2 linked regions of the Homo sapiens genome follow. The protein of the gene in region 1 purifies or fractionates together with the protein of each later gene. This does not show direct contact. Each region holds a gene or a part of one and is shown in the gene's direction. Other genes may lie near its edges.

Region 1 (3,500 bases):
CTATTGGGACTCTTTTTTCAAATGCAATTTTCCAACTTATTCCAGAGGTAAGGATGTTGGCTATTTGTTTCTGTGAATAATTGTTTCTTTTGAACGTTTTAGCACTTTGTATGTTTTTAGCCTCCATAATTCTTACAGCGTTTTATGGTCTAGTTTATAGTGTCTTGGATAAGAGAAAGCTGAATCACAGCAATTGTAAAGGCTTGTCCCAAGCTGCAGTGGATATCACTATCAGAGACAAAATTAATATTCTAGGAGGCCAGCCACTAGGACGTGCTCAGACAGCTCTGGGACACCTCAGAAGGCCTTAAAACTTTATTCTGCCTTGCACTTGGCAAATTTAATTTTTCCACACACTGTTTCATTATTTATTTATTTATTTATTTTTCTAAAGAGCATGCAATGTCAACTGTACTGCAAATGTCAAATGTAAATTTATAATGTATTTAACATATACCACTAAATTCCCTCATATATTTACTACAGTTATAAGTGACTAGAGAGTAAATGAGAGCATGGTTGACAAACCTTTTCATTTTTTCCAACTGTGGAAAAAATATCAATTGAGGACTAATAAATAAATAGCAACTTATTTTTTTTCTTTGATAAAATGTGTTATTGATCTATCTTGACTATAGTGCACACTATTCAATTTATTTCAAATCTGTGTTGTGCCCATATAAGGAAGAGAAATGGAGGAAGGGAAATAAATGAAAGGAAAAGAGAGGCAATGTTGAAGAGGAAGGAAAGGAGAAAGAGACTTTCATAGAAGGGATCCACAAAGGGGAACTAGAGAAATATATGTATACATGGACTGTATCTGCCACCCACAATGCACACACACAGGGAGAGACAAACCCCATACAGAGAGAAAATATTAATAGTATTTCAGGGAGTACCACCCTTATCTCGTAATTTTTAGAAAATTATAACTAAAGCTTCCTTTAATTTTTCAAGCTATACATTGAAAGTGGGTATATAACTTTTTAGAGTTATAGATTTATTATCATTATTTGATCTAGGACCTAAGATAATATCTATTTCACAGCCTCAATTGTAGAGATAAAAAATATTAAAATTTAGGGTGGTTAAATAATTTGATTATAGCCTTACAATCAGCTAGTAACAAAGCTAGGATGACAATACAGATTTTCTGATTTAAAAGAGTATTATATACATAATACATTTAATATGATATAATATATGTATTTATTATCTCATCTGCTTTATGGGTCAAAGTAAATTAAACAAACTAATACTGTATGTGGACTAAAGACTCTACATTGATGATGTTAAGGTTTTCTATTTTCTTGAAGTTTAACAATATAAAGAATCTGTCTTTGTAATAATCTCTCAAATTTTCATAGAGTTTTTTGTAGCAAAATGATTTTCCTTTTCTTATTTCACTTTATTTTCATAACCTCAATGTTAGGTAAATGGAACATTTATATTTATATAGCCATTTTGCATTGTATAAACAGGCACAAAGAAGTTATTCAAATGAGGATGCGGCCATGATGTCTCCCCAGAGGCAAACATAGGACAAGAACCCAGACATCTTCTATTCTGCTTCAGAGGGGAGATTTACAATGTGTGGAATGGTGTAAAGTTGTGGCTTTTCACCCATTAGTCTCTCCTCTGATTCTATTTATTTGAAGTTTATGTGTCTTGTCTGTTAGGAACATCTTGACTCTTTATAACTTCAAACTCTAACTCCAGTTCTTTGTCCTTTAAAGAAAGAATTATTCCATTCTTATTGCTGTGTGTGTGTGAAAGAGAGAGAGAGAGTGGTGGCAATTTTAAATCTTCTTTTTGCTTTTATTCTTGGGCCTAGGCCTTGATTTATTTACCTTTTTAGGATTTATCACAGTTCTGTAGGTATAAGAGGATTTCTCTTGGGAAAACAGTAATCCAAGTGGCCTGCCATATTTGTTTTAAAAGTTTGATTCTGGATATCATGGACTAATATATTACTTTTAGAGACAGTAGGTAATCAATATCTCATTTATCTTCATTATCTAGACCTAATATCGTATTCTAAAGATGAGAATCAGAGCTGCTGCTTTACTGCTAAAAGTTTACTCTTTCAAGGCAAATATTGCTGTAGGTGTTATAGGTGGGAAACTGTAAGATTCTCTGGTGGCTTTATTTAATGAGACTTCTAGTTGTAAGGTTTTTGTGCCATCTCATACAGTTTTGTCATTCAAATTTCAAAGTTTTTGTTTTGTGATTTTTGGCAGCTAAGTTTCCAATATTACTTGGATGTGAAGAGAGACTTAGAACATTGGTGAGAATTGCATACTGGTATTATTTTCCAGAAATCAAGTTAAATTTCTTGGTTTTACTTGAATTGCCCTTTTTTCTCCCTTAGGCATTTGGATTTGATCCCAAAGTCGACAGTTATGTTGAGAAGGCAGTTGCTGTGTTTGGTGGATTTTACCTACTTTTCTTTTTTGAAAGAATGCTAAAGATGTTATTAAAGACATATGGTCAGGTAAATGGACTTTATTTAAAACATCCAATATTTTACCCCCTAAAGCTACTTTATATAGGCAAATAAAGACAGAAATTTTATTTTTAGAATTATGAGAATGGTCCAGTTATTAGGCTTGTGAGTTTAAGGAGAACAAAGAGTCAATATATTGACAAGTATAAGATAAATACTTGATTCATGTTGTAAAATTTGGAGGTTATTTTTGTTTTTTTTCAAGTATCAGCAATTTAATATTGAATAACAGATGTGCATAATTCATATTCTATTCATATTCATCAAAATAAGAGTGTATACGTGTTCTAACACGAACAAACAGTAACAGCAGAATCTAATAAATGAAAATACATGTAAAAAAGAGAAATTTTATATATCTAAAAATACTTCTTTACACATAGAATAGACATACAATTTTCCTCTTATAAATAAAAAGCAGTAAACTCTATTTCCTTGTCTGTATGAATCATCTTTTTTCTTCTTATAATCTCTTTGGTTTTTGTTCCCATATAGAATGGTCATACCCACTTTGGAAATGATAACTTTGGTCCTCAAGAAAAAACTCATCAACCTAAAGCATTACCTGCCATCAATGGTGTGACATGCTATGCAAATCCTGCTGTCACAGAAGCTAATGGACATATCCATTTTGATAATGTCAGTGTGGTATCTCTACAGGTATATGTTAATTCCATTTTTCCTTCATTATACTGCATTCTTTATACTGTGTAAACATGACTGTTTATGCAGCTAAGTCAGTTTTTGTACATTTATGTATGTCAGACTTATTCCTATATATGTGGGGTAACTGGAATGTAAGTCTGCATTGTTTTTCCACCTTCCCTGTATATGTTTACTCTAAACAAGTGAGTTAAGAAAGAAATTGTGGATCACTGTTCTGGACTTCATTATTCTCTAAGATTATTTACTATATGAGAGTCTCTCAATTGCATTTATACAATATTATATAGCAAAATTTATTCAGAGCATTTATTTTACAATTCTTTGAAGA
Region 2 (3,500 bases), on another chromosome or scaffold:
ATTTCATTAAAGATGCAAGCATGTAAAGGGTTTTTTAGTTTGTTTTGTTTTTCCACTTTTTTTTTGTGTCTCTCTTCCTACAAATAGGGAAATATGGTCAAGGAATAGGAATGGTTTCTTTTTTCTTTTTCTTTTTTTTTTTTTTTTGAGGGCTGGGACTGTTGTGGGATAATGTGGAAAACCACTGTTGCCAAAGTAGAAATCCCCTGCCCTTGAGGGAAATACACTGTTCTTGAAGTGAAAATGGTAGGGAAAAAAATAGCTGGGCTGTTCAGTGTGTCTGAGAAGGCTTTTAGTTACTGTATGGTGACGTGGCTGGTGTGATTAAAGAAAGGGCTTTCTGCTTTAAAAAGCTTGGAACCTAAAAATGGGCCTCTCTGTGGCTTGGGACTTTTCCAGCCATCCTGTGGTAGAGTCCAGCCTGCCCAGTATCCTCATCAAAGCCAGGCCAAGTTCACAAGCACGCCCAGGCCAGTCAAAAGGTCTGAGGAAGACCTCAGAAATGTTTTAGACAGGAGGAGTAAACTCAGAATAAGGGGCTCATTCTTCTACCCCTCAGTCATTAAGACCCTTTCTTTCATGCAGCACCACTACTTCAAGTCTGGATTGAGGAGGGATTGCACGCACATGTGTGAGGTTGGAGTCTCAATCTCAATGTGATTGTCATTGCCATGTTCAAACGATGAGGCTTAGAATGTCCCTTGTCTTACCTGATGGTCATAGCTCTCTATGACCCTCTGCTTCTTCCCAGCTGTGTCCTGGTGCTCTTTTGCTGTCAGAAGTGCTTGAGCAGACCTCTTGCTGCTGTGGACACCCTAAAAAGCTCCGCACCCCCTCAAGTCTACTAAGGCATGGTGGCTCTCTTCTAGGACAAGACTGTTGGGTGGTGGCTGAGCATTCGCCTGTCTTTGAGCGTCTGCATTTGCTCTCCCCCACCCCTTCCTCTCTTCCTTCTTTGTTTGTAAATAAAGTTGGTTAGAACACAGCCATGCGCATTCCATTCTGTTTCAGAGAAGTTAGCCTTCCCTCCTTCACAGGAGGGCCCAAACCCACTGTTACTCTCATTCTTTATAACACTCAAGCTACTTAGCATCAAGTATTTGTTGTATGAGCTGATCATGTGTCTCTCCCACTTACAATGTAAGTTCTGAAAGAGGAGGGACTTTGGTCTGTTTTGTTCCCCACTGTGCCCCAGAGCTTAGTACCTTTTGCCTGGCACATAGTAAGAGCCATGAATGAATAGCAGCAGCCCCTGGTGAAACTCTGTGATGCTCTGTGTGGTACAGTTACAGCTGGGACTCATTTGAAAATCACAGTAATGTTTTTAGTGAAGCAGGAAATGAGAAGAAATTCCCTATGGGCTCTGCATCTAAGAGGCTCCAAGTAGCTCTTATGCATGATCCTAACATGGGAACCATTGTTTATTCTGGAAGGTAGTTAGTGTTTCTGTTGGGCGGATGGAACACATTGTGTTCCTTACTGATGTGTGACCTTGAACAAGTCACCGATCATCTTAAAGCTTACTTCCTCTTTTGTAAAACAGACAATATAATATCATTTAACCTCATAGGCTTGTTGTAAGGATTACAAATGACAAAGTTTATTAAGGCACTTAGATTAATTTAGATTATTCTTGTTCTTTTTTTTTGGTGTTGTTTTTGTTTTATTTTGTTTTGTTTTGTTTTGGAGATAGAGTCTTGCTCTGTCACCAAGGCTGAAGTACAGTAGTGTGATCAGGCTCTAGCAACCTCCCCCTCCCAGACTCAAGCCTTATGCCCACCTCAGCCTCCAGAGTAGCTGGGACTATAGGCATGTGCCACCACACTAGGCTAATTTAAAACAAAAGTTTTTTTCTGAAGATGGAGTCTCACTGTATTGCCCAGGCTGGTCTCAAACTCCTGGCCTCAAGTGATCCTCCCATCTCAGCCTCCAGAGTAGCTGGGACTATAGGCATGTGCCACCACACTAGGCTAATTTAAAACAAAAGTTTTTTTTCTAAAGATGGAATCTCACTGTATTGCCCAGGCTGGTCTCAAACTCCTGGCCTCAAGCGATCCTCCCACCTCAGCCTTCCAAAGTGCTGGGATTACAGGTGTGAGCCACTGTGCCCAACCAGCGCTTAATTAAAATGCATTCATTCCTATTAGTAATCACTAACTCTGGCTTGAATGTACCTGCATCTGTTACCACCCAGGCATAACTGTTCATGTAGATCTGACGTTGTTCATTTGTTTGAACACAGGGCTTCAGCAACCTGTTTATGTAGCTATTCTTAGCATTTACAGGGGTAGAGCCTGACCAGACATGAGAGGAAATATGCTCTGTTTCAGAAGAGGTCAGGCTTGCCACCACCCTACTAAACTAGGAGATGTGGTTGTCATTGCCCTGTTCAAAAGATACAGTTTTCTTCTGTGGGCTGTAAGATAAGCTGGGTATGGCCAAGTTCACCTTTGGATCTAACCAGGGCATTGGTGGTGGTGGTGTTTCTGGCATGGTACAGCAAGCAGGAAGCAGTAGTGTGCGAGGCCACCCTTTCCAAGAAGGTGCGGGCCCTGGCATCAGGTGGGGGACAATGGATAACAATAGGCTTGACCTCTCAGCACTTCTCTGATTCCTTATCTTTTCTATAAAAAAGGCTAAAATTCTTGGTTCCTATTCCCTGCAGCTGGCTACATGTTAGGAAAATTCAAAGAATAGCTTAAGAACTCTATTCAGGTTCCATAAAGCACTTAATATCATCAACAGGCCTAGAAAGGATCTTTTACCAGATTTCGATGCATGGAAACTTCCTCAATAGTAATGACACCCTCTGCAACACCTTAGGAAAAACATTCGCTTCTGGGCACAAGTTCTGGTGAAAGCTTAAATCTGTAGTTCTAACCCAGAAGAGAAGGCTAGTCAGTGTTGCTGAGCATCTGAGCTGCTCTTTGACTTTGGTGATAATTGTTTTATGCCCTTTTCTGTCCAGAATCTGCTGACTGGGACAACTGCAGGGTGGAAGCCACCTTTTTGTCAGTTCAGGAGCAGGCAAATTATCTAACATGTGGCTTTAAAATTCAAATGAGATAAGGCAGTAAGGGTCACTAAGATGTTTCTGGTGGGTATTGCCTTACATGACTTTAGGGTACTGGTGGCACTATCTTTGATTCTTAAGAGTACAATTCATTGTACTATGTATATATATTTAAAATAACACTTAATGCCTTTGTGACTTTGAAAATAATGTGAATTTTTATGTAAAATTAAAGCATATGAGGAAGTATGGAGAAGAATAAAGAATAAATACACTCTTTACCTCTAAATGCAGATCTTACCAGATAAAATTGATTTCCCTTTAGTTCTTTAAAAAAAAAAAGTGATACGTACATGTGTGTATATGTGTATATATGTACATGAATATATGCTTTTTTAAAAATTAAGATACTGCATTTCCTTATGCCATTAGGTTTTTTTTTTTTTTTTTTTTTTGAGATGGAGTTTCACTCTTGTTGCCCAGGCTG

What was found. Proteins that work in one complex are often made in the same cells at the same time.
Region 2: the proteins of SLC39A8 (region 1) and MGAT5 purify together in Homo sapiens (affinity purification with mass spectrometry; 3 studies listed by BioGRID and IntAct, with this or other methods). This does not show direct contact.

The regions. Positions count from the first base shown.
Region 1 is NC_000004.12:102,303,983-102,307,482, reverse strand, and holds part of SLC39A8 (metal cation symporter ZIP8 isoform a precursor), read left to right. Parts: coding exon 1-47; intron 48-1,481; exon of another isoform or gene 1,482-2,287; intron 2,288-2,371; coding exon 2,372-2,494; intron 2,495-3,001; coding exon 3,002-3,166; intron 3,167-3,500. UniProt on the Homo sapiens protein: Electroneutral divalent metal cation:bicarbonate symporter of the plasma membrane mediating the cellular uptake of zinc and manganese, two divalent metal cations important for development, tissue homeostasis and immunity.
Region 2 is NC_000002.12:134,260,572-134,264,071, forward strand, and holds part of MGAT5 (alpha-1,6-mannosylglycoprotein 6-beta-N-acetylglucosaminyltransferase A), read left to right. Parts: intron 1-3,500. UniProt on the Homo sapiens protein: Catalyzes the addition of N-acetylglucosamine (GlcNAc) in beta 1-6 linkage to the alpha-linked mannose of biantennary N-linked oligosaccharides.